Homo sapiens: one gene and its partners. The protein of the gene in region 1 interacts with the protein of each later gene in a pairwise test. Each region holds a gene or a part of one and is shown on either strand. Other genes may lie near its edges.

Region 1 (3,500 bases):
TGTATGTTTAAAATTCTCCGTAATAAAATGTATTTTAGCAACAACAAAAATGAGCCTTTCTAGGACCATGCAAAAGCTTCTCATTAACTCTTTCAGGTAACAGATTTCAGAATATAAAAGAATTCATCCAGGGACTTCAAAGTGTTTACCAACATCCTAAATTGAGCCATTTGTTCCCTGTCCCTCATTAATCCCTTCTTGTGTCTCCTGCTCAGGGAGTTGAGGAAAAGATTCTTTTTTCTCATGTACAGAGGAGACTCAGGGCAGGATGTTACTGGAAGTTATACACATGAACTAACTCTTGGCCCACTCATCATGGAGTTCAGGTTAACCCAGCCAGGGTGTCTAACTGGTAGTAATTTCATTTTGATGTTTTCTTTCTCCAGATTGTGGATGACTTTTTCATTGGCCGCTATGTCCTGCTGGCTTTCCTTAGTGCCATCTTCCTTGGAGGCCTCTTCTTGGTTTTAATCCATTATGTTCTGGAGCCGATCTATGCCAAACCACTGCACTCCTACTGACCACTCTTCAGGAAAACGAAAACCTGTTCTCTCCTTCATTGTGATGACATTGATGAGCAGGAAGGCACTATTCAGAGCCTTGTTTTGACAGCCCTCATGCCTTAAGGTTAGAGGAGTATCTGTCCATCACTAAGACAAATCTCTGGAGTCCTGGCTTCCAGAAACAGGATTGCCAAATTGTCCCTGTGGGGCTAGATTCTTACCAGCTTAAGAAGGATATTGCTATCTTCTTAGTACCCGTACCTTAGGATTTCCAACTGTTTTGAAAGGGAAATAGTAACAGTGATCTGCTTAGAGTGGATTTTCACTCAAGTCCTTAGTAAGTGGATTTTGGGGAAAAAAGCACCTGGGCTTCTGGTTCTTTTTGATAATATATAAAATTATTCATTATGAGGTTGCAGTTGTTTGCAAAGGAGAGGCACTCAAATTTGAAAGGTTATTTTAATGTGATAATTTGGAAGACTTACTCAGATGTTGGTCATTGACCACTCTGTGCATATATTTCTGCAGAGCTCTGTGAAGGCAATGAGTGTCACTTCCCTCTGCTCTAATAAAGCAATAAATAATAGCTAAAGGGCTGACTTTCACTTCGAACTCTTGGCCACGGCTTTTTAATCAAGTTCTTTAGGTTTCCTTGGGATTAGAGGAAAGGTATGGAAATATTGTTTTTTGTTTTTTGTCTTGCCATGTATCTGTAGGTTTTTTTCTTCCATGATGTGGTGGGCTGTGTGTGCCTTATTTAATTACCATGAGTCCATTTTGGGGTGTCTTCACTTTTCATCTTTGTAGCCCTTTCTCCAAAGCTAGTGAGGAAGGTATATTCTCAACATCAGATATAACTCTATACCTGTCTGATCTCCCAGACCAAATGAAATTTGCATTAAATGGAGGGGCCCTGGTCAGGTTCCACTTTGGAAGTCTGATCCTGACTCCCTAGAGCCATTTGAAAAAGAATCTTCTGGCTTAAAATTAAGAACCAAGAAAACAAGTTGGAAAGAGATCACTGATGGAGTATGTGCTCTATGCCAATAGCACACTAATTCCTTTGAGGTTTAATTTATTTAATTTTTACAACGGTCTCATTTTTATCATCCCCACTTTAAAGTAGAAAAAATGGAAGCTTAAAGAGATCAGCTGACTTGCCCAACCTTCACCTAACAGCCAGTGTGCAAACCCAGGTGTGGTAGGCCCCAGGGCTTGTCTCAGAGAGAAAACACACTAGGGTTTGTGGAACTCTGATTGAGAGCTTCAGGTAGGTTAAGGCCACACTGTTCCTTCACTTTCTCTCCTCAATTCTGTTTTCAGGGTAGAGAAGTTACCCAGTCCTGCCACCCCACAGGCAACTAAGCTCTAAATTCCAAGAAGAGAGAACAGGTAACCACTGAGAGTCATGGGCTGGTGAGGGCCAGGTATAGTTATCCCTACATTGAACCATTTCCTTTATCTTACTTAGTTTGGAAAAACTTTGCAGATAAGGCTTTGTACAGAAAACTTCAAAGGAAATAGTTTCCTAATCTGGCCTAGGGCACACAGGTAAGAAAAGAAGAAACATCCTCTAAGCAGATTGAGGGAGAGAAAAAAGAATGCATAAGTCTTGAGGGAATTGAGACAAGCTGGGGGCCTCATGCTATTGTGAGTCTCCCTGCAGCCCAAGTGGAAGCTTGGCTCCTAACAAGCACAAGCTGCCAATTGTTACCTTCTTCTGAGAGCCTTGCTAAAAAAGTAACTCTGGGAAAACTCTTATAGGTTCCTGACCATGAATCCATCTTTTTTATTCCCCCCAAAAGTTATTCAACTATTAGATCAATGGATAATAACTATGAGGTTTTGGGTGACTATTTAGATGGAGGAAAGTGTATTAAGGTTGGAAACTAAATTCTATCCTTAATACTACTGTTTTCTAATTTTTGTTTTTTTGCCTGATGTAAATGAAAGGCATATATGTTAAAGATTGGCTTTAGGAAAAAAAAAAAAATACCCTGTGCAAAGTTTATTTCAGCTTGACTTGACCTACAGTCTACAGACCTGGAGTCTATAATTACCAGCTGTGGTGAAATGAATGATAGATTTCTTTCTACCTGCATACTCAATGCAGTTATGCAAAAAAAGCCCCGCAGGGTTGGGATAAGACGTAGAAGGCTGAGAGGGCTCAAAATGGATTTCACTGAGAGTTTGGCATGGGATAACCCTATAGTCAATGTCTGTTATGGTACCCTGTATGCTCATGGCCTTCTTGGAGACAGGGCTCAGAGGTCATTCCTTAAATACAGACAGAAGTCATCTTAGTGTTCAGAACCATTCTGTGATCAGTGGCCTTAGAACATGTTCCCTCTACTGTTCCCTACCCAGAGGGGATCCTGTGGCAGACTGGTGATCCCCACTGTTTAGAAGGTGGAGAGGGAGAGTAAATCTGGGTTTCTATATAAGAAAATAGGTTATTTCGTGGCGTCTTAAAATTGTATCCTGACAAAAGCTGAATTAGGAGGATACCACCCTATCCCCACAATGGAGATCACAATGGGTAATTTGTTAAGTTCCTTAAATTTTTCACTGATAAAAATGGAAGTAAAGCTACCATTCTTTGTGTACAATGTAAATTTAATGTAAAACTGCATCAGAATTACCATACCAATGTCCAGGGACTAGGGAGTACATAGCCATTCATTCTCGAATCCTGCCATTCATTCAGCATATATTGTGTGCCCGTAGGGTGTAAAGCACTAGTCCTGGTGGAGTAAGCCCATGGAAGAACTAGGCTGTAAGGTGTCTAGACTGTCTTCCTCACTGCTTCCTGGAAGGAGGGCATCCAATTTATTTTTAAATGTTTTTATTCTAACATAAAGCAATCCATTTTTTGTTCTGTTATTTAACAGAAACTTTAGTATCAACTCTATTTCATGGTTGTTGCAGTTGAAGTGTTTCTGGTTTATTTTTTGCTCAATGTGTAAAGAAACCTGCTGTGATTATTTTACAGATGAG
Region 2 (3,500 bases), about 63 Mb from region 1:
TACCCTCTGTGAGCTACTTGGAGACAGGGAGGGGGCGGCAATACCAGCTGTTGGCAGCTCTGTTCTGCCCCAGCCCAACTGCCACCCACGGTGCCCCAGCCCCCCCTCCTGTCCTATCGTGTCCAACCCTAATCTGAAGCTGGTGCTGTCAGCCACATGTCACAGGCACTGCTGACGCCCCGGACCCCTGCAGTCCACAGACCACCCCCCACCCCCAAAGCCCAGCCACCCCACCACCATGCTCCCTCACTCTCCACCCTTCTCCCTGCCTCCCAGAAGCTGAGCTCCGACTCCTCCTTGGAGAGAGAGTGGGATGATGTCACTTCCTGAGGGTGGGGGGAGGAGTAGGCACGACCCCGGCAGGCTAGCCCGCCAGCCCGCCAGGCCACAGCTCGCCAAGTGGCTGCACCGGGGATAGGGAGGCGGGCCGGGCGGACATGCGGGCTGGCCACCTGGCCCCACGCCCTCTCGCCCACCCTGGGGGCTATGCCCACTGGCCAAGGGAGACTTGGCTGCTTCCTCCCCGAATGATGCCGGGCTCCTCGGACACACATTTTCCCTGGAGCCGCCACTGGGGAGAGGAGGATCTGCCGCCTGCCCCGGACCAGGTGCCATGTAAGCCTCTACTGGCCCCCGGCGGGGGACAGCTGCCCACCAACTTGGTCCCCAGCCCCCTGCAGCAGTTTAGTGCAGAGCTACCCTGGAGCCCTTTATGGGTATCTCTGGGGACCTAGCTCCCTGTGGGGTCACCTCCCACCCATGCTGCTTCCTTTCTCTTTGGGATGCTAAGGAGTGAGGGCCCTGAGTTCCTGGGCACTCTTTCCTGAGCTTGCTTGGGGCTGATTTGAATTCAGCTACTTCAGAGAGTTGAAAATCCAGCTGGAAAAGCTGCATGGCTCAGGGTGGGCTTGGGAGGTATGGTTGCCAGGAGGGGTGTGACCCTGCAGGGCTTACCCCATCCTTCCAGCAGTGTGGGGTGGAAGGTGTCCCAAGCCCTACTCCTGACCCTGCACCTCAACCGTGCTCTTCCCTCCCTGGAGGCATAGCTGTGGTGGGGACTTCTGTCTGATGGGTTCAAAACCAAGTCATAGAGCACGCTCTTGGCTTCCAGCAAAGCAGGAAACTGAAGCCTTCATTCAAGAAATACTTACTGAGCACCTGCTCTATGCCAGGCACTCCTCACCTTCCATGTTTGTCAGTCCCAGCTGCCAACCATACAGGGTCCCTTGCCCCCACCTTCCCAAGGCCTTCAGCCTTCCTCCTGCCCTGCTGGGCTTTGTGCTGTTGGGTGGGCTTGTTCTTGGTCTGGGAAGCCCCTCCCTTGACTCCAAGGACAGTGTGCACTGGGCCAGGTCTAAAGATTATAGGGTTTGAGGGCTGGGCTGAGGGTCCCACTGATCCCATGAAGGAGGAAACGGGGTCTTTAATAGAGCTCAACAGTGACTGCTGGGGTAACCCCAGGTAGAAGCCGATCCCTAGTGGCCAGTACCAGTCTCGGGGGACAGGAGAGACTCCAGGGGGAAGGCTGAAGTCTGTGTCCTGCTGCTAAGGTCCTTTGTGTTGGCTCCTGCCCGGAGGTGGGTCAGCACTTCCAGTGGCCAGCTCCAAAAATGCCTGTGCTTCTGGCCACACCGGGGACTGGTCCCGTGGCCCAAGGAATGCAGTGGCCCTGGGTGCCTTCACCTCCTCAGGCAGCTATAAGGTCCTCTGCTTTCTTTCAGGAGGTGAGCACCAGGCCCACTGAGCCTCTGCAGAGCCACCAGCCATGCCCGGGATCGTGGTGTTCCGGCGGCGCTGGTCTGTGGGCAGTGATGACCTCGTCCTACCGGCCATCTTCCTCTTTCTCCTGCATACCACCTGGTGAGTCCCCAGGCCCGGGGCCACAGGCCTGGGTTTGGAGAGAAAGGTCTGGAAGGACGCTTTCTGGCCATTTGTTCCTCCCTGCTTGGGCCCAAGTCCCAACCCTGTCATGCCCCCAGCTGCCCGGAGGAGGTGCCTGAAACATCTAGCCCCTTAGGGCAATGACACCCCTGCTACCATTGCTGGACCTGACCCCAACACTGGGGGGAGTTGCTGCTACTGTCTCCCCATGGCTGACCCTGAGTCTTTTACTGGCCGCCCATGCCCTTCTAGGCATTCGATGCCAGGTGGACAATGGTCTTATGGAGGAGGTGCCTGCTGCCAGCCCTCCTTCCACTGAATCTGGGCTGGGGAAGGGCCTGCCTGCTAGTAGCATCTCGAGGTACAGGGGCCACCTGGCCTTGCTCACACGGGCGTTCCTGTGACAGGTTTGTGATCCTGTCCGTGGTGCTCTTCGGCCTGGTCTATAACCCGCACGAGGCCTGCTCCCTGAACCTGGTGGACCACGGCCGCGGCTACCTGGGCATCCTGCTGAGCTGCATGATCGCTGAGATGGCCATCATCTGGCTGAGCATGCGCGGGGGCATCCTCTACACGGAGCCCCGTGACTCCATGCAGTACGTGCTCTACGTGCGCCTGGGTAAGGGCCACCCACCCTGGGGTGCTGCCCCAGACAACTCCCACCTCTCCATTCACTCAGCCAGTATTTACTGCGCACATGTTGCGAGCCAGGCCCTGTTTTAGCACTGGGGTACAGCAGTGAACTAAGGCCTTCTGTAGCTTACATTCTAGACTAGGGGCCAGCAAACTGCAGCCTGAGGGCCAAATCCAGCCTGCTGTATGTGTTATTAAATAAGGTTTTAGGCTGGGTGTGGTGGCTCATGCCTGTAATCCCAGCACTTTGGGAGGCCGAGGCAGGTGGATCACAAGGTCAGGAGTTCGAGACCAGCCTGGCGAACATGGGGAAACCCCGTCTCTACTAAAAATACAAAAATTAGCCAGGTGTGGTGGCACACGCCTGTAATCCCAGCTACTTGGGAGGCTGACGCAGGAGAATCACTTGAACCCAGGAGGCAGAGGTTGCAGTGAGCCGAGATTGCGCCACTGCACTCCAGCCTGGGTGACAGAGCAAGTCTCCATCTCAAAAAAAAAGAAAATAAGGTTTTATTGGCACATATCCATTCAGTAAGGTATTGTCTCCAGCTGCTTTGCCCCTACAGCAGCCGAGTTGAGTAGTTACTACAGCGACTGTAGGACTCCCAGAGTCCAAGATATTTGCTCTCTGGCCCTTTACAGGAAAAGGTGCTGACCCCATCCTCAACCATGTGCATCTCTTCAAAGCATATCTTCCTTGTGATCCTTCTCAAAACAGGCCTTCTGCTTCCTGGGAACCCCCTCAGGAGTCTGGGCCAGCTCCCCAGAGGACCAGCCTGTGTCCTCTTCTTGGGCTTAGGTTGCAGCCCCTTCTGGTCATTTGTAGTGAACACTGCTCTTGTGCTTCTGTGCACTGGGCTAGGCCCTTTTTCCTGTGTTAACTCACAGGGAGTGGGTGTTATTGGTCTCCGTTTATAGATGAGGAAACTGGGGCCCAGGCCTAGCTCTCACACAACTAGTAAGCGTGTAAATGTCGGAGCTGGGAT
Region 3 (4,036 bases), on another chromosome or scaffold:
TTTGAGAATTTCAGGTTGAATACAAAATGCTTTTCTCTTCTTAGTTTTATTTTACCCAACTAACTTATTATTCTATCCTATGACTCCTGTGTTATCTCTTTAACGTCTTTTTCTTTTCTATGACTTTCTGTGCCTTGAGTATCCTGATAAACTTTAGAGAAGTGGGACCAGTATCCTTACCTTGAACTTGGTAAAGTCTTGGGAGAAATACGCCTCAATTTAGTCATTAAACACACACACCACACACACACACTTGTCAAAATCTGCAACTTTAATCCAAGACCAAGGAATCCTACTTTAAAAGGTCTGTCTCACCATAGGCTTTTTTTCTGTATTCCACGTGTACCAGTGATATAGGCAGAGAAATGTAGCAGATAAAGAAATGAATTTGGCTTCTGGAGCTTTTCTTTCATTTAAATACCACCTCTGTAATCTTAGACAAGTCACTAAACCTTGGTGCCTCTGTGTGAATTGGAAATAATTATATATCAACTCTTCACAAACCTAGAGTGCTATCGTGAGGATTAGGTCTAAAAGGCTCCTCACAGGTTTCTCATGCTTAAAGCACCTTTAATTATCCCTTTCTTAGTAATTGTATAAATCTCTAAGTTAATCCATTAAAGTCTAGTCATCATCTCTCTATTAGCAAGACCCAACTGGGCAGATAGTGTTGTTAGGATCATTGTGAGTCTCCCCAGGGTTCTTCCCCTTCCATTTCTGATTATGCTGTGAATATATTTCCAGAATTTCAGAGGGGTTTGCTTGCAAGCTAAAAGATCTTTGCAAAGGCTCAAAAAATACGGTCTGCTTCAGACAGAGAGAGGGTTTGCAATATGCGATGAATCTCTCAGTCCCATTAGAACCTTAAAGATGATGATAGCTCACATTTAATGTAATGATTAATGTGTACCAGGACCATTCCAGGCACTTTTGCATGTAGACAAATAATTCTCAGATTACTTACTGATTAATATCATCATCATCTCTATTTTACAAACGAGGAAACTGAGGCACAGAGAGGCTAAATCACTTGCCCAGGATCTGGAGCCAAGTAATGGTGATACTGATGCTTCCTTTTCTTTGCCGCGCTCGGATTCTGAGTTTCACAAGAATGTACCTGGGTGCCCCTTAGCGGGATATGAATAGCTTCTTCGGAACCCCAGCGGCCAGCTGGTGCCTCCTGGAAAGTGACGTCTCATCTGCACCGGACAAGGAGGCGGGGAGGGAGCGCAGAGCACTCAGCGTCCAGCAGCGCGGCGGGCCAGCCTGGAGCGGAAGCCTGGAGTGGAGCAGGCAGTCCGCGGGGGACAGACGTCGGCTGGGATTGAGCCGGCAGACTGCGAAAAGTAGCTGGAGCCGGAGCAGGGACAGAACCTGTTGCTGCAGACGGGCTTGGTGGATTCTGGTTCCTGCCGCCGACAGGGCTCGCCGGGAGAGGTAACAGCATGGGCCAGTTTGTCTGGGGGCCCCCGCTTGGGGGCGCGACCCCTCTCTAATGCCCAACGCTTGCCTTGATGACACATATTAGCGATTGTGGACCGACACCTTGGATTTTTCAAATCCCTTCCTAATTACACAGGCACCCGCTTGGTCACTGGCCCAACACTGGGGGGCTTCTCTGCCCTGGATGTCTGCACCACAGATGGCTGTGGCCCCAGGCTTGCAGAGCAGGGACCTGGTCAAGGGATGTGGGGCGCTTTCTTCACCTTAAAGTTCCCCCCAAGCCCTCTCCGGGGCTGTATTGTGTTGTAACTTTGTTGAATTTCCTTAGCGGGTCTGAAGCTAGCGAGTTTCTAAACTGTTTTTATCCGTGATGCTTCTAAGCAATGATCTTTGTGTATCTGAGGCTTCATCTTGTGCATTTCCACTTGCTAGAAAAGCTGAAATCAGGTTTCTGAGCTGCGTACAGGACACCAGAGTCCTTATTGAAGGCGTTTGGAGAGGTTTTATCCCCTTCTGGGAGTGAGATAGGGTTTCCAGACAATACCATTTTAGTTCTTCTGTCAAACCATCAGGCATTTTCCAACAGTGCCGCCCTAGGTCAAATTTAGGGTCTGGAGGAGAGGAAAATGATCTTCTTCAAGCTGTCGTTCTAGTTAAAGACAGAACTACTAACTAAAAACCAAAAATACATTTGTTCATCTCCCATTTCCCCTCAGCTATAGTGTAGATATTTGAAATATTTATTTCTTTTTAAAAAATCTTAATGATAACATGAATTATACAAAGATGCTGGTTTCCTTTTTTTAATCCAAATATTCAAAGTTGTTTTAAACATATGTCTAAATTTCTAATTCCATTCACATCCAAATAACTTTCAAGTGGGAACTACTAATGAGAGGAAGGATGGAAAAATCAATGGTTTGTAAACTGTGAAGGACATATTTTTGTTTCCATCTGGATTTCTAATTAAACCATAATAAATTGAGTAAAATTATCATAATAATGATGAATCTAAGTTATGGATGAATTTGCAAAATGGCTATAATGTGCTCAAAAATAGTGCCATTATCATCAACAGAATGGCAATTGTATGCAGAGTTCAATTAGAGTCTTTCATCTGTTAAAAACTTCTATAGATCGATCATTTAATAAAACAGTGATGCAATATAGTGCAGTAACAGTACCTACTGCACTATATTTAAAGGCACATATTAACATTACAGACTGGCTATTGTAATAATAAAAAAATGTGCTTTCTTTATTGCTTGAAAATAACATGTTACTCATATATCATTATCCTATTCTTTTTCTCAATATGTGTTTTTCCAAAATCCATACACCCCAATAAGATCTTTCTACTAGCCATGATTTCTTCATGTCTATAGAAAACTTCAGAGCATTTGAGGCTTAAGCTTATTTTTGCTTCATCTATCTGTTTGTCTGTTTCATCTGGCAGTTTTATTCTTGGTGCATTTTGTGAACACATTACAAAGTATCTAAAATTATATATTAGAAATTCATTGTTTTATTTGTATGATTATTTTATCCCATAGTTCCTATAAATCATACTGCTCACCAATACTCTCTTTTACAGATGTCAAAGACTATAGGTTGAATAAATATGAATTCACTATAAACCAATGAATGATTTCTTCCAGAAATATCAGTTTATTTATTGTAGTTGTTCTTCGGCTCTGTGTGTGTGTGTGTGCATGTGTGTGAGTGAGTGTGATTTTTTATGAGAATTCCATGCAAATGCCTCTGTGATAAATATTTATAAACCTTTTCACTGTATTGCATTAAAATGGATTTCCAGCTGTAACATGGAACACAAAATAAGGACAACTTCATGCCTTGAAGCTTCAGATACTTAAAAATAATAATTTTGTAAAATACTGCCCTCCTTATTATGGAAAAAAGGACATTGGTTTTAGCTAAAGACTTCAAAACTGTCAAGCACATTCAAAGAAAATGGAATAAATATAATCTCACATTCCTAAAACACATCTGGATTAGTCTATTCTCATGCTGCTATAAAGGACTGCCTGAGACTGGGTAATTTATAAAGGAAAAAGATTTAATTGACTCAAAGTTCTGCAGGGCTGAGGAGGCCTCAGGAGACTTACAATCATGGCAGAAGGGGAAGCAAACACGTTCTCTTTCACGTGATGGCACGAAGGAGAAACGCCAAGCCAAAGGGGGAAAAGCCCCCTATAAAACCATCAGATCTCATGAGAACTCACTCACTATCATGAGAATAACATGGTGGTAGCTGTCCTCATGATTCAATTACCTCCCACCAAGTCCCTCCCAAGGACACATGGGGATTACAAGAACTACAATTCAAGATGAGATTTGGATGGGGACACGGCCAAACTATATCAATATTTATATAGTATTTTAATAATCTTAACAAATTGTTCTCTTAAACATATGAATTTTATGCTTACCATTAACCTGATGTTAACAGCTGATTTTCTTTTCCTCTCTGTTTCCCTTTGATTTTAAGTTCCAGCTTTTTGGATAAGTTGGTTCTTAAATGAATTTTCCAATTGCCTTGAAACTGAACATTAAGGGTCCAGGGAGACCTTCA
Region 4 (3,500 bases), on another chromosome or scaffold:
CTGGTGAGGGAAAATACCTTTGGTGTATGACCCCTCACTCCCACTCCAGGGTAAAGGGAACATTTTCGGACCTTAGAGGTGGAACTGTCTTCCTGGGAACCATTCTCCACTCCCACCTCAGCTGCAATCCCAGGCAGCAGTGCAGCTATCACTCAGATCATGGACACAGCACCGTGGGCATGGATATGCCATGCTGGAGCCCTTAGATGCCCTCTAGCCACTCTGGAGCATCTTCCGATGGACAGTGGGGGAATCTGAAGGGGCTCGCTTGGTGCTATGGTCTTTCAGAGGCTCTGTAGTGCTCTGTGGGTGGACCCTGGGGGGGCCTGATCTCATTTGAGCTGATTTTCCATTACGCCTGAAGAGTTTCTAGGGGGCTGCCTCTCACTGGCAGAGTAGAAACACCCACTGGAGCCACCACACACATCCACCTGGCTTCTTAGACACCGTCAAGGAATGGTGTCTTCCTCAGTACCCCACAGCTCCCACACTGTCATCCCCCAGCCAAGGGCCATCCCTAGAAAAACTGGTTTACTGTTCCTAAGGAAACCATTGTCTATAGCCCTTAGCCTTGTGGTTTAGGCAAGAGGCCAGGTCAGGTGCCCTAGAGTGAGGCAGGGGCTTCAGCCAAAGTTGTGATCGCAGCTTCTGAGGCAGTTCCTCAGTGGAGTCAGAGTCCGCTGCCACCTGAGCTTTCCACCAGATCTTCTTTCCTTTCCTTGTGCTTTCCTCAAGCTGCAGGCTTGATCCCAGCCCACAAATATGAGAGAATTCTGGAAAGTGCCCTGAGAAATGGGTTCTGGGTTTTTTTTTCATTTTTATTTTTTTAAATGTCCCAGGCTGCCTTCCTGTCCTCCCATCCTGCATCCTGCTTTCTGTTCCCTGGATACCGTAGGATGGTTTTATTTCAGTTCATGCACAAATTAGTCTGGACACTGTGGAGTCATAACAAGAGTGGGATGGAGGTTCCAGGGCCAATCAGTTTCTTTGGAGGGAAGCTTGAGAAGTAGGTTAGAGCAATGCCCACAAAAGCCACTGCTTCTCCTTCCCATCCCCAGCAATGAGCTAAGAGCCAACCTCAGCCAGAGAGAGGGTCTTTGATCACAGAGGGTCAGTCAGTGGGATGTGATTAGTGGGTTTGGGGATGGAGTCCCAGGTAAACCAGAGGGCAAAGGGATCCTCTGAGTCCTGGCTTAAGGGAATGGGGTTTCAAGTTGAGGGTTGGGGACTTAGGGCAGGGGAGCAGCAAGGTGAGGAAAACAGAAAGGCTGGCATGGCGAGCATCCTTGGCAATTCAACCTGCATGCTGTTACACTAGCCCCCATTTCTGCCTTTGCTCAATCCAATGGCCAAAGTCAGTCTATCCTCAGCAGCACCTTCTGACACGATCCAGTGGTAGTGTCCCTCACCTGTGGCCCTCGGGGTGCTGTCCACTGTTTTTCACAGACCCAGCCACCCCCCAGCTCTGGCCCCTGGTTCTTCACACATACCCTGTCAGGCTGTAGGAATTGAACTCACTCTTGACTTTGGGAGGTTGACCAGGCCTTGGAGAGCTCCTTGTGGCAAGAGGTTGGGCTTGGTAGGCATCGTAGTAGTTGGAGCGATTTCTCTGGGATGAGCAGGAAAAGCAGAGGATGATTCCAGCTATCAGGGAGAACAGGGAAGAAATAATGCCCAAGTAAAGAGCCTCTCCAATCTCAAATTTCATGCTGTCAGGCACCAGTGGTGAGTAGAAGTCCCGTAGGATCCCATGAAGATTCCAGGCAACAGGAATGAATCCCAGGAGGCCTCCAAGGATGAAAAAGACTCCACCTGCTACCGCCACTCTGTCTTTGGCTCGGGATTCCTGGCAGAAGACTGTGCATCTCATGCCCACCACAGAGATAATGCAGGCCAGGGAGGAGATTGCACTGGATGTCACCATCATGGCCTGGGCAGCCTGGATGTCAGCGGGCAGGCCCAGAAGGGTGCTATAGATGTCACACTGGGTGATGCCTGTGCTGTGTGTGGCACATTCCATCCAGAGGCCCTTGGAGAAGCCAACTGCTGTCACAATGCTGGCACCGACATAAGAACTTGTTTTCCAGCTGGGGAGCAGCATGGCAACCAGTGTGCCCAAAAGCCCCAGAAGGCCTAGGATGTAGCCCACAAGTTGGAGGCCAAGAGAGGCCATGGCAGACCTCTCAGTAGAAGCGTCTTCAGGGACTGCTCCCTTGTCTTCAGGCTGAAGCTCTTGCTCCTTGAACACCTCTAATCCCTCATTTCAGAGTCTCTCTGCCAGGCTGACTTCTCTCCTCCTTACAAGTGTCTGTGGGTGGCCACAAGCAGCCTCAAGAAGGCATCTAGAAGACCTAAAAAAAATCCATAAACCAGATTAAATATTGACCAGAAGCTTATGAGAAACCAGAAAACGCTGGATGCCTTTTGACCTTTGTTATCTTTAGAAATAACACATGAGAAAGGAAAAAAAAAACAACTTTGAACGTGGAGCCAAAATGTCATCGCCTCCTGCGTAGGCACATGCCTTAGGTTGGCAGCTGGACAAAGCCAGGAGCCAGACAGGTGGCTGCTTTCCGGGAAGGTGATGATGGCAGTGGTGGTTGTGGTGGCTGTGTTAACTCAAGTGCTAGTCTCCAAGGCCTGCTGTTTAATACATTGCCAAGCAACAGTGCCATAGGGCCCCTCAATTGCAGACTGAGGCCAAACTGCAGACTACATCAGGAGGAACAGATCCTAGAATGTAGTCTTGGACTCCAGTTTGTTAGAGGCCTCTTGAATCTCCAGGGGCCTAGAGAGTAGTGGCCTAGCCCTGGATCATTCTGCCCATGGTGAAAATCTACTCCAGGGTAGATGGGGGTGGGCAGCAAAGCCTTCTGTCCATACTCTGAGAGTTCAGATCCTCCCAGCCATGCCCAAATCCCCCTCTGCAGCCTAGTCTAAGGCCTCCTGCATGTATAACATGCCCAGACATTTCCTGTCCAGTCTCCTAATAGATGCTCCCATCATCAGCCTCTTGGATGATGAGGGAGCACTCTGGAACAAGGGTTCCAGGACTGAGAGGGGGCCCTGAAATTCCCTGGGCCATCTGTTAGGGGGGACAAGAGTCTGCCACAGAGGAAAGGGAAACTGCTCTAGAATATAGGGCTTTGCATGAGGCAGGTATCTGAGTCAATGCTTTGGAATCTCAGAGCCATATAAGATTTTGCCGTGTTCAAGGAGCCCTCGGTGTTGCCAAGATTCAGGACACTAAGGGTCAAGGGCACACCTCCCCATTCTCTACAAGACCCTCTGATCCACTAATTTTTCTTTCTTTCTTTTTGAGACAGGTTCTCACTTTGGCACCCAGGCTGGAGTGCAGTGGCATGATCTCGGCTCATTGCAGCCTCGACCTCCTGGGCTCAAGTGATCCTCCTGCCTCAGCCCCACAAGTAGCTGGGACTACAGGAGCGCATCACCACACCTGGCTAGTTTGTGTGTGTGTGTGTGTGTGTGTGTGTGTG
Region 5 (3,500 bases), on another chromosome or scaffold:
TCAAGACCCATTTATTAGGGCCTCTCAAAGGAGATAAGAGAGAGAGTGGGAGAGAGAGAGAGTGGTGGAGGAAGTGGGGAAGGGAAGAAAAGAATCAAGAAATAGTCAAAGAAAGATATGCATTGTTGGATTAAAAGGATCTACACTGTGCGGATCATGATGAATAAATAAAGATGCTCCCTAGACATACCACAGTGACTTCAGACGTATCAGTGTAACTCCAGTGCACTAAAGGTAAAGAGATTGTGAAGGGCTCTAGGAATAAAGTAGATGGGATACTGTTTTGATTTAGAGGTATGATGACTCTTTGCTATCTTGAGGGGGTGGGGGGACAATCCGTCTTTGGGAAGGAAGTTAAGTGGAGATAGATTTAATATTGCAATATAATTTTACATTTTGAAAATAAAATGAATTCCTGTTGTTTTCTCTGCTTGGTTGCTAGAATTACATAAATATCCTTGGGGAATGATTGAGATTCTCTAAAATACATGTAGGATATTAATATTAGTCAAAGTGGGGTCTTTGAAATGTTGCATAGTCTTTCTTTAGATGTTAGCCCTGAAAGGGCTTCGCGGTCATCTATATTTGCAGCCCTTTTCTCCCTGAGGCCAAGACCTTGTTTACCACCTCGCAGGACAGTGCTAGGACTAGTGGTTGAGATTTCCTTTTGAAGTCCAGGGCTCTCTGTGGGATGGTTGACAATTCTTTTGGCCTTGATGGCTCTGTTTAGGCTTGTTGATGGGGTAACAGGATTGTGCATTTTTTTCCCTGAGCAAGAAGGCATGCCATTTAACCTGGATAATGTTTTTAAATTAGCAGAAAGAACAGATGATTAGTTTTATTTCGTATTAAGGTTGAATTTGCAAGGGCCTGCTTATTGGTAACTTGATAACCTTGATTAACTGTACGGATCACTGGAGCGCTCAGAGTGCGTGTGGGTTTGTTATGGAACAATTAACTAGAGAACACAAGCTCGGGTTCCTTAGTAAAGGACTCCTTGTGGTGAGAAATAATGATCAGTCTTACTGATTACTATTTATGTAAGGGTTTTTCTCTTTATTTAGCTTAGAACACCATACTTTATTGAATGAAGGGATTCCGAGTTTCTATTCTTTTCCATTTTAACTGCCTCAACTTTTCTTGTGTGATTTTAGGGGGCAGAGCCCACCAGTTGCTGAATTTAACTTGCTCCTGAAAGCTCACACTTTGGAAACCTACGGGGTGGATCCTCACCCATGCAAGGTAACTGCCCCTCACAGCAGGTCACCATATAATGGTTGTTTTGCCCAAAAGAGAGTTTATCTGTGCGCAGGCCTGGCAGAGCCTTGTTAAATCTTTCCCACAGCTTGGCCCACGGTCCCTCATTGGAAGGGACAACAGTGGGCTGCTGTTACATGTTTTGGCAGCTGATTTTCTCCATTGGAGTCTTCCAATTGTTCATTGATTGCCATGTAGTAGCCATATTTTCCTAAATTAACATCCATGGATTCACTCATCAAATGGATGGTTTGGCCCCTGAGGAGTTACAGGCTCCTGACACATTTACTTTCAAGGCCATTGCCAGCAAGAATGGAGTCTTTAAAAAATGGGAAAGTGGAAGGAAAAAAAAGAAAGATTTCAAGTTGCATTTTGGCATTAGGAACACTTGTTTTTATTTTTTCCTTTACTCATATTTGACAGTGTTTCTCTCAAGGATGAAACACAGACTACTTATATCAGAATCTCCTGGACCTCACCCCAGAGCTACTAAATCAGAATTCTGGGGGTACAACTGGGGAATCTGCCTTTTTAATCAAGCTCCCAAGGTGTGATACTTATAGATACATTTTCCAGAAATGTTTCACTGAAGCAACGTTCTTCTTTCCATATATTAGACTATGCATCAGCCAGACACTAGTCCTAATCCTAAACTAAGCATTTTATCAGTTAGGCTCTTAAGTATAAGTTTTGGAGTTTTAGTGGCAAATTTCTTTACCCAGATTGGACTGCCTAATCTTATTTGGCAAAGCATTAGTCCTATAGGTCTCAGCTTGGGCTGCTCATTAGAAACACCTGGAGAGCTTCATTAGCACCTGCTGACCAGAACACATCCCACACCAATTACGTCAGGATCTGCTGGGGAGGAGGGCGGGGCGGGGCGCAGGGCGGCGGAGGGGGAGTGGTGGGTGCGGCGACCAGGCTACCCAGGTGTTTCCAATGTGCAGCCAAGGCGGAGAGCCAGGGGTACTTGTCCATACTAGCATTTACATCCTCTTGTTCTGCCTACGCAAATGTTGGAATATTTACCAGCGGCTCTTTCCTAGAATGGTACTAATCAGTTTATTCATTTTAGTGAATTTTATGCAGAAATTTGAACTGTATTTTATTTATTTCTTGGAGACTGACTTGATCTTTGTGTTGTTATTCCTTTGCCTTCACTTATCTACAAGATGCTTAGTTTTCCTGGTCTAGGCTGGAAGCACAGTAAGCTTTTCTGGAGATATTTTTATACTGAAATTTCCAGAAATCCTGTGAGAGATTGAATCAAAATTAGATGCTCAGGGCTTTGGTTTCATCACGTTAGAGTGCTAATGGCAAGCAAGAACAGTTTTCTCACATTACAAAGCAGACCTAGAACACAGGCAGCCCCGGAAGACACTGGGAAGTAGACATAGTGATTTGGGACTAATTCATATTTTTCCAGGAGGTTCCTAGAGGGCAGAAGGTCCGCTCCTCAAAGGGAAAAGCTACATATTCCTGAACTTCACCCAGACTTTGAAAGGCCTGCTCTTAGAAGTTCCATCTCAGAAACTTAGTTTATTGCTACAATCATTGGGATTAGTCTAAAATTAACCTAGGGTGAGGATGAATAAATATATTGGTTATCATTTATTTTATTTTTCTCAATCTAAACAGATTTTTCTTTTTTCTTTTTTTTTTTTTTCAGGATTCAACAGGCACAACAACATTTTTAGGATTCACAGCTGCAGGCTTTGTGGTCTTTCAGGGAAATAAGAGAATCCATTTGATAAAATGGTAAGTGCCTCTTTGGAAAACTGGCTTTCCATTTTTCTTAATCTTGATTCCTCCGTCCCCTCCTTGGCTTCTCGGGCAAGTGTCAGGTAGAATGCCTGGTATCCATTTCCTTGCCTTGGAGCTTCATCATAAAGGGATGTAACATCTAGGTTGCCTTTGGTGGGGACTTGGATTTGCCAAGCTGAGGAGTCAACTTAGGAGGCGTGGGCTCAGGGGCTCTGCCTTCAAAGAGAAGGTATCCAGTGTTTCCTCACCAGTAGCTTCTACTGCTGTGGCCAAGGGGGGCACACGGATGGGTCAGGGCAGGGTAAAGGTGTGAGTTCCCATGAACAACTCAGGATCCACTCTCCCCAACTCACTTCTTTCCACTCTTCTCCTCTGTTGAGTCCTGGGTGCAAACTCACCCTTTGTTATCCAGTGTATCCGTGAAGATGCTTTTGGCAAAAGGTAGTAGGAATGTCTACTCATGATGGCTTACAAATAAG
Region 6 (4,157 bases), on another chromosome or scaffold:
ATGTCTTCTTGAATCTACATAATTGAAACATTAGGGTGGCTCTTTTTCTCTTCATTTGTCTAAAGGAATTTGCCTGTGCATTTTGCAGTAATAGTTACGTATTTTATTTGATTAATTACCTGAAGTCAGCATCCTGGTCATGGTTTATTCTTTTTTGCTACTGTTTTTGAATTTTCAAAGACAGCTTAATTTTGCAAAGATTTTTTTTCCTCCAGTCAACTACTAGAATCTACTAAACTATTAAAATCTCTACTGCTACAGAAAGCATTCATTTTTTAAAAAATCAAAGCCTTAGGAGAAATATTGCACAAATTATAGAAATCCCCTATCTTTTCACTAGCTTTATAAGCCATATAAAATATTGCAATGGAGAAAGAAAAAGAAACACATTTAGTAAGGTCAACATAACCTCCATTATTTATCCAGGACCCAATTTTATTTTGTGCTTTAAAGCCAATATTTTGTGTGTTCTATTACTACAATGTAACTTTTCCATTACTTTTTGTCCTATTAGTATCAACTTACTTTTAAAAATTTAATAAAATGTTAAAGGAACCTACTACAGAGTTTCTCAGAATTAGAGTTCCATTTTTGAAAAGATAGCCATGCATTTCTAAAATACTGCACCAATTCTATTAAAGTAATTTTATTTAATCTGCTTTTATGTTTAATTATATACAATTAGTGGAAAATATGTTGCCATTTAATTACACTGTCATCTTCCCCACCCTGCTATGATCTGTTTCCTTCCAATGAGTACTGATAGTTCTCTTATGCTGGTTTTGATTAAGCTGTGTCTTAATTAAAGCTGTCATTCTAGGAATCCCAAAAGTGGAAGTTATCTTTGTAGCATAAACTTTTTAAAAAAAATTTTATCCATGCAACTACTTCCAAGTCCTTTTCTTCCTTTCCGCCTTCTCCAAACTTCCTAACATTTCTGCTGTGGGTCAGAGATCAAGGGCTCTCCAAGCTAGTATGGAAAGGGAAGAGGGGGCCTTACCTTCACAATGTAGTCAGCCACCCGGCTGTATTTGTAGCGAATGAAGACGCCCAACCCGATAGGTATGAGAGTGCTGCAGAGAGTCAGGGTCACGGTCCCTAGGGGTAGTAACTGCACGATAGGGGTGTTGATCCAAGCCCAGCTGTAGATCCACAGGCACAGGGGCATCAAGACGAGGGCCAGAAGCGTGGAGGAGATGGTCATGATGATGCTGCAGAAAAGGGAATGTGCAGAAATCAGAACGAGCTTTGAGTCAAACAGCCAGCTAACCTTTTTCTTGTATGTTGAGTAGAGGTGGAACGGGGAGACTGCAAGTCCCGGGGTTGAAGTCTGGGCAGAACCTACATCCGAGGAGAGTGCCAAGAGAGCAGCACGTCTAACACCGATGGAATTATGAACCCAAGGCAGGGAGGAAAAACAAGCCCCCTGTCTCGGTACTGCTGCCCTCGACATTATAAAGTCTATTGAGCCTGGATGATTCTGAGGGGAAGGAACGTTCTTCCTTGCAAGCCCCCTGCAAGGTAAGCCATGGTAAAGCTGCTGACTGCTACTTGTTGGTCGGACTCAACAATCCTGCACTCTATGTGAGATTACTTTCTCTGACGGGCCAGTAGCCCTATTTTACTTTTACGTTGCCGGCGAGTTCTAGTTCAGACTCCCCCTTCTCTTTGTCTTCCACTGGACAACGACCTGCGCTGCCACCCCGACGCTCGGGGAGGACGGCGAGGGACCCTGCTGAAGGGCCGCGCTGCGCATGGAATCCCAGCCTTGGAGCAGCTCCCTCGCCGTCTAGCTTGCTCCCCTAGCAGCACAACCTGCAGGTCGGCCTTGACTTCTAAAGCCGGGGCGTCATCAACTTCCTCTCCTTTTCTCCTCCTTCCTCCACGCCTAATTCCAACCCCTCCACTGCCTCTGTCCTTCGTCGTGAGCCCACGGCCGTAAACGCGCGTCTGGGATGAGACAGATGCCCAAGGAATAGACAGATCCGTACCTGAGGTTCATGTCGCCGTCAACCAGCAGGGACATAAGATTGGAGAGATTGCCGCCGGGACAGCAGCCACACAGGAGCACCGCCACGGCGGCCACCTCGTCCAGCTTGAAGGCGAGGGCCAGCAGGAAGGCCAGCAGCGGCAGGAGGCCGAACTGGCAGAGCGCTGCCAGCAGCGCGCCCACGGGCCGACGGACGTGCGCCCCGAAGTGGTTCACGTCCACCGTGCAGCCCAGGCCCAGCATGGTGATGCACAGGGCGGCGCCCACGAACACGTTCAGCCCGTGGTTCAGCGGCGTGTCCCAGAACGGGAGCGCGTGGGGCGCCCAGGGCCGAGGGAACGGGGAAGGGCCGTGGCTCGCCGCGCCGCCCGCGAGGCCGCTGGTCGTGGGCTCCGGGGTCGGAGTGGGGCCGGGGCTGAAGCCGAAGCTCGGACCCGGCCCGAGGCTGAGCCCAGGGCCGGGGCCGGCGCTGGAGGCAGGGGCGAGGGCGAGGTCCGTGCCGGGGCCCAGGCTGCTGGCATTGGGCGCCAGGGTGTAGTTGTCCCGCAGCAGAGGGGCGAAGAGCAGGGTCACGTTGTCGTTGCCGTCCATGGCGCGGCCGGAGCTGCGGATTCCGGTCCCCTCCCGCCGCGTGCCTCTCGCCGTCCCGCGGTCGCCGCAGTCGCCGCCCGTCGTTCTGCCCGTCGGTCTCCGAGCCCCGGCTGCGCGCCGCTGACGTGCTCGGCGGCGTCGGGGGCGGCGGGCCGGTCTCCGCTCCCAGGTCTGCAGCCGCCCGCAGCCTGGCACTCCGCGCAGCGCGGCCCCCCGGGTGAACCCAATCGCTGCGCCGGCTCCGCGCCGCGGCCCCGCGCCCCGCAGGCCCCGCCCCGCCCTGCCGCCCGGTCCCCTCCTGTGAATCGCCAGTAAGTGGTTCTGTTATCGAGTGTAGCCAGGGGCGGAACAAAGACCTGACAAAGGACCAGAGCAGGAAAAAACCGTTCCTGGCTGCCGATCAAGTTCTCTGATGGGCTCTGCCTCTTTATAATGAAATCTGGAGACCCAGACACACAAAGTGGAGGGGGCGGGTGGATAACCTCATCGATGCACGCTCATGGCAGAAACTGTTCCTATAGCCTGCAGCCCTAAGAGGGGTGCTTGACTTAATATGAGCGATTCTCTAGTAAGCAGGACACGATATCTGGCTTGAATTTGCAAACAATTTTTTGCATGATTTTCAGTCTTAAAGTAGAATGTAATAATAATATAGCGGGTTTTGTGCAAGTGCGTGTGCATTATTTCATTCGATTCTTACAGCAAAGCCGTGAGATAGATACCATTTTTACAAGCTCGATTTTTACAAACGAGGAAACTGAGGAACGAGGAATTCTCAGTCTTATCAACCGAACCCACAAGTACCTGGCTGAATCTGCACGGCGATGTGTCCCTAAAGAGGGCAGAGAAGAGCTTGGCTAATAACAATTTCCATGAAAAATGTGTGTTTAAGAAGTTATTGGCAGGTGGAGAGAGGATATTTCAGTGGCCACAGATTTACGAAGCTTTATGAGTAAGGCCCTGGCATTAGGATTAAAGGACTGAAAAGAAATAAAGTGCTGAGATTCCCTGCTTGAGACAGGTTTATCCCAAAACAATTCAAAAGCAGAGCTCTTAGGAATGGAGATGCAACAACTTTTAAGTCAGTCACTAGATGGCATGTAGAAAGGAAAATAATTTCGCTGCTTACCAACCAGGTGGGGCCTGTTAAGGAGGCATCTAGCTCCCTGGGGGTGACCATAAAGTGATAGTCAGTTGAGTTGTAAAAACCAACAGGAATTTCTAGAATGAAATCAAGGCTCAGTCTTAGCCCAGGGTTGCTTTCACAAGGAGCCAAGATATAGTGAATTCTTCTATCTGGGAACTTTTCCCTAACTCCTGTCCTGGCACAGAGTGACTTCTATTACCCAAGGGTGGGCTGAGCCTTTCCTCCTCCCCAAATCTCATGAAGATGATGGAGACTATGAAAAGTAAGACTTTGCAAATGCAAAGCATATTGCACTCTTCATCACAAATAATTTATTTTTTCTCTTTTGGACTGTAAATTCCACGAGGGCAGAGCTTTTGCAAGAATCTAGGAGGATAATGTACCCTTACACTTTTCCAAAACACTAAACCCAGAAAAAAAAACTTCAGT
Region 7 (4,008 bases), on another chromosome or scaffold:
GGAGGTGGTCTCTGGAGATGAGGTGGGAAACAGCTCTCATCAGGGACTGCCCTGAGTGAATTCCACAGCTGAACCTGGCCTGAGTGTTAGGGTAGATGAAGGTGGGTCACCTAAGAATTTCCCCCCACACACAACCCAAAGTCAAATTCTGCCCCAGAGGTAAGATCAGGCCTGAGAGGGCTGAACCATCTCAGGGACAAGGCAAATGAGAGAGGAAGGCCGTAGGGAAGGGCTTCTCTCCTACCTCCCACGTCTTTATCTGTCCAAATCCTTGCTATTTCCCAAGGCCCCTCTCGGTTGCGTTCTTCTGCAGGGGATTCCCCCCACTTCTACTTCAGGAAACAACCCATGCTTCCTTTGAGCAGCTCACATCTAAGCGTACGCTCTGTGCCAGTCCTTAGGTAAAATGTTTTACTTTGTGCCGGGAGCGGTGGCTCACGCCTGTAATCCCAGCACTTTGGGAGGCCAGACGGTCGGATCACCTGAGGTCAGGAGTTAGAGAGCAGCCCGGCCAACATGGTGAAACCCCGTCTCTACTAAAAATACAAAAATTAGCTGGGCGTGGTGGTGCACGCCTGTTATCCCAGCTACTCAAGCGGCTGAGGCAGGAGAATCACTGTAACGCGGAAGGCGGAAGTTGCAGTGAGCCGAAATTGCGCCACTGCACTCCAGCCTGGGTGACAGAACGAGACTCCGTCTCAAAAAATAAAAAATAAAAAATAAATGCTTTATTTTGATTATCCCATTTAAACCTAGAAAACTCTCTTGCTGCTTTGGGAGCAAAAAGCCTGCGCTCTGGAATCTAAGAAACGTGAATTCAAATCTGTCCCCTGCCATTGCCTTTGGTAAATCGCTTAACTTCTCTGAAGCTCAGATGCCTCAAACGACTTCTTCCCGCGGTGTGTGTCAGGGGAGGTTGGGGAGCTGGGGTTGTGAGCAGTGTGGGTCTAGCACACTGCAGACGCTCCGCAAACGGTCAATAAACGCTGAGGGGCCAAAAGCCACTCCTCAGGACGCGCGGCGGAGAGACCTAGCCTCACCCCAGCCTCGCCCCGCGCAGTTGTTTACAAGCGCTCGCGGCGGATGAGCTCATACGAGTGGCGGCGGCGGCCAATAGGCTTTGAGCCCCGCGGCCTGGAGACAGCCCTGGCCAATCGGACGGCGCGGAGGCGGAGCGGGGCCGGCCGGCATCGCGCGGCCGCACGTGCGCCACGAGTGTCTCAGCCGCTTCCTGTCAGCGCCAGGAGCGGGGATTCCCGGGGTCCCGGGCAGGTACCTGGACAGCGCAGGTCCTCGCAAGGCCGTTTCTCAGGGACGCCGGCCTCGCCACTGACGTAGCACCAGGGCCCGCGCGGGTCCTCGTCCGGGTTTCGGCAGTAACTGTGATTGCCGGCCCCTAAGAGAGGAGAGAAGGAAATGTGTGCCGGGGCTGGCACCGGGAACGCGGCCGCCGCCCGCCAGCCCCGGGGCCGTCCCCCGGAGGACACTTACCCGACACGGGGGCCGAGGCCAGCCCGCTCTGCGCGTCCAGCCAGTTGAGGCAGCGGAGGCCCGGCGCGGGGGAGGTCTGGTCCTCCCGGTACAGGTGGCCGTTGTCCCAGAAACAGCCTGTGAGGAAAAGAAGCCCCCGGACACAGAATAGCGGGCAGCGAACGGAAGACGCCCAGCGTGGCGGACAGGGGAGCCGGGACCACCCGGGCTGAACCTCAGCCTGGTTAGGGGACCCCGGGCCCTGCTGGGCCTCCCTCTCCTCTCGTGGCAACACCCCCACGCCCCACGCACCCCCCCCCCCCAACTCCACGCACACCTCAGGGTGTGAAGCCCCCAGCCTGTGCCTGTCCCCCAGTCAACGCTCAGAGACTGTTAGGTTTTATTTATTTTTGAAACCTGGAAAGCGCTGCAGAAGTGCAAAGCGTTGTTACTCTTGAACTTGTGACCACTTTGGAGGAGGAGATGGAGAGGAGGAGGCCTGGCTTAGGGTCCCTTTGAGGAGCTGGGAGTTTTGGGACGGGGGGCGCCCAGACGTGACATTTGTCCCTGTGTTGTAATGGCCACGTTACATAAACTCCGGTGTTTCCTCCTTCACGGATACGGCCACCTTCTGCCCGTTTAAAAGGCAAATACTCCCTCCCAGGAGAATTCTCCAGGAGCCTTGACTCCGTCAGGCAAAAGATTCAAGACAGCCTCAAACGGAGGAAACCGGCCTCATCGCTGACTGGATGAGACTCCAAGCTCCCACTCCCCTCTGCAGGAGAACCACAGAAGGAGGCTGGGGAAGGAGGACCACACCATGCAAAGGGCTTAGAAAGAACAGGACTTGGGGAGTAGGGGAGATGAACCCCCAAGCTCCATCCACTCATGAGCAAGGAAAGGCAGAGAGAAAGTGGCTTCTTGCCTTTGTTCTTAATGGCAAAGATGGAGCTGCAAGCCCCTGACAAGGAAAGGAGGGGTGGAAAAGCTTTCACGGGACAACAGAAACCGGCTAAACGCTTCGTTTCCTGTCATCCTGGCCCTGTTTGGGAAATAGGGGGCTTTACCCCTTCTGTTTCATGAAGTTGCTGCGGAAAGGAAAGATTGTAATCTCACCTCCAGATCCATAGGCTTCTGCTAGGAGCATGTTGCTGACGAGGAATGCTTGTACCCAGGCCAACAGCATCCTTGCCTCCTTCGTCTTGCAGGTGATTGAACGACCAGTGTTTAACCGAGGCCCCCTTGGCGGCGGCTCTGCCTCCCAGTCCCAGCCTTGCAGTCAGACCTGCCCTTGTTATGCTGTTCTGGTAAACAGCCTCTCTTTAGAACTGGGAGCTTCCCAGCTAGCTTGCTGCAGCGCGAGCTGTTTTTCAGCTGAAAGGCGCCCCCTGGGTCCTAAGCCTCCTAGGTCATGCAAAATCTAACTGAGCCAAGAAAGGAACTCAGCCAAGAGATATGCAGGTTGTGCTTAGCAGCCGATCAGTTTGAGACCTGCGAGGCCGCATCCCCAGGGTTTTTCATCTCTTCTGTTTCCATTTGTGTGAGTACAGAAAAAATAATTCTATCAAGGGGCATCATGGGATGTGGGAAATTATAAGCACTAAAACACAGAACAACTTAGGGAGCTATGCACCCAGGAGGAATTCATGACCACATAGGGGGGAAAAAATAAGAGTTTCTGGTGGGGAGTGGAGTAATAGTTTTTTTTTTTTTCTTTTCTTTTCTTTTTGAGACAGAGTTTCACACTGTCGCCCGGGCTGGAGTGCAATGGCACAATCTCGGCTCACTGCAACCACCTGCCGGGTTCTCGCAATTCTGCCTCAGTCTCCGGAGTAGCTGGATTTTTTTTTTCCCTCACTCTATAGGAAATCCATTTGCTGTAATTTATATCCATCATTAAATCTCACCATATCCATTTGACTTAGGCCTTTTGGAGTTAGGCAGAAGGGCCCTTCTTCCTGTTTGGCTGACAGCTCCCAGGCAGCCTCAGTAAACTGAGAGAGAGAGCAGAGTGATTCGTCAAGACTACCTTGTGACAGGGGCACACCACCACAACCCAGCTAATTTTTTGTATTTTTAATAGAGACGGGGGTTTCACTGTGTTGGCCAGACTGGTCTTGAACTCCTGACCTCGTAATCCACCTGCCTCGGCCTCCCAAAGTGTTGGAATTACAGGTGTGAGCCACCGCGTTCGGCCGAGTAACACTTTATACCCATCCTTGAAAAAGAAAAAGGGCCTTTATGAACACTGACACTTAAAAAAAAAAAAAAAAAAAAAAAAAAAAAAAAACAGTGTAACTTGGCCAGGGTCAAATCTGTCACATTGCTTTTTCTTACATTTGAGGTTTTTTGGGGTGTTGTATATAGTAGGACTATAGAAGGAGTATCTTTAGTTGAAAACACATGTTATGCAAACATGGAAAAATTTGCTCAGCTACATTGTAATAGTCTACCCTTTCTGCCAGCCCTAAATTGTATAGAGGAATTTAAGTAAAATGTTTGCTTTTTTTTTTTTCCCTCACCCTATAGGAAATCCAT

Evidence for each region.
Region 2: the proteins of TMEM218 (region 1) and DAGLA interact in binary tests that used the Homo sapiens proteins (3 or more experiments, as listed by UniProt).
Region 3: the proteins of TMEM218 (region 1) and NPFFR2 interact in binary tests that used the Homo sapiens proteins (3 or more experiments, as listed by UniProt).
Region 4: the proteins of TMEM218 (region 1) and CLDN2 interact in binary tests that used the Homo sapiens proteins (3 or more experiments, as listed by UniProt).
Region 5: the proteins of TMEM218 (region 1) and FRMD3 interact in binary tests that used the Homo sapiens proteins (3 or more experiments, as listed by UniProt).
Region 6: the proteins of TMEM218 (region 1) and SLC10A4 interact in binary tests that used the Homo sapiens proteins (3 or more experiments, as listed by UniProt).
Region 7: the proteins of TMEM218 (region 1) and PIK3IP1 interact in binary tests that used the Homo sapiens proteins (3 or more experiments, as listed by UniProt).

The regions. Positions count from the first base shown.
Region 1 is NC_000011.10:125,094,627-125,098,126, reverse strand, and holds part of TMEM218 (transmembrane protein 218), read left to right. Parts: intron 1-386; coding exon 387-521; 3' UTR 522-3,500. UniProt on the Homo sapiens protein: May be involved in ciliary biogenesis or function.
Region 2 is NC_000011.10:61,718,391-61,721,890, forward strand, and holds part of DAGLA (diacylglycerol lipase-alpha), read left to right. Parts: intron 1-346; exon of another isoform or gene 347-615; intron 616-1,721; 5' UTR 1,722-1,765; coding exon 1,766-1,860; intron 1,861-2,288; coding exon 2,289-2,500; intron 2,501-3,500. UniProt on the Homo sapiens protein: Serine hydrolase that hydrolyzes arachidonic acid-esterified diacylglycerols (DAGs) to produce the principal endocannabinoid, 2-arachidonoylglycerol (2-AG).
Region 3 is NC_000004.12:72,030,764-72,034,799, forward strand, and holds the start of NPFFR2 (neuropeptide FF receptor 2), read left to right. Parts: upstream 1-1,236; 5' UTR 1,237-1,437; intron 1,438-4,036. UniProt on the Homo sapiens protein: Receptor for NPAF (A-18-F-amide) and NPFF (F-8-F-amide) neuropeptides, also known as morphine-modulating peptides. Can also be activated by a variety of naturally occurring or synthetic FMRF-amide like ligands.
Region 4 is NC_000023.11:106,926,902-106,930,401, reverse strand, and holds part of CLDN2 (claudin-2), read right to left. Parts: intron 2,352-3,500; 5' UTR 2,174-2,351; coding exon 1,481-2,173; 3' UTR 1-1,480. UniProt on the Homo sapiens protein: Forms paracellular channels: polymerizes in tight junction strands with cation- and water-selective channels through the strands, conveying epithelial permeability in a process known as paracellular tight junction permeability.
Region 5 is NC_000009.12:83,311,402-83,314,901, reverse strand, and holds part of FRMD3 (FERM domain-containing protein 3), read left to right. Parts: intron 1-1,154; coding exon 1,155-1,242; intron 1,243-2,926; coding exon 2,927-3,015; intron 3,016-3,500. UniProt on the Homo sapiens protein: Putative tumor suppressor gene that may be implicated in the origin and progression of lung cancer.
Region 6 is NC_000004.12:48,481,986-48,486,142, reverse strand, and holds the start of SLC10A4 (sodium/bile acid cotransporter 4), read right to left. Parts: upstream 2,801-4,157; 5' UTR 2,582-2,800; coding exon 1,992-2,581; intron 1,212-1,991; coding exon 1,001-1,211; intron 1-1,000. UniProt on the Homo sapiens protein: Transporter for bile acids.
Region 7 is NC_000022.11:31,289,689-31,293,696, forward strand, and holds the start of PIK3IP1 (phosphoinositide-3-kinase-interacting protein 1 isoform 1 precursor), read right to left. Parts: upstream 2,801-4,008; 5' UTR 2,657-2,800; coding exon 2,587-2,656; intron 1,609-2,586; coding exon 1,492-1,608; intron 1,397-1,491; coding exon 1,277-1,396; intron 12-1,276; coding exon 1-11. UniProt on the Homo sapiens protein: Negative regulator of hepatic phosphatidylinositol 3-kinase (PI3K) activity.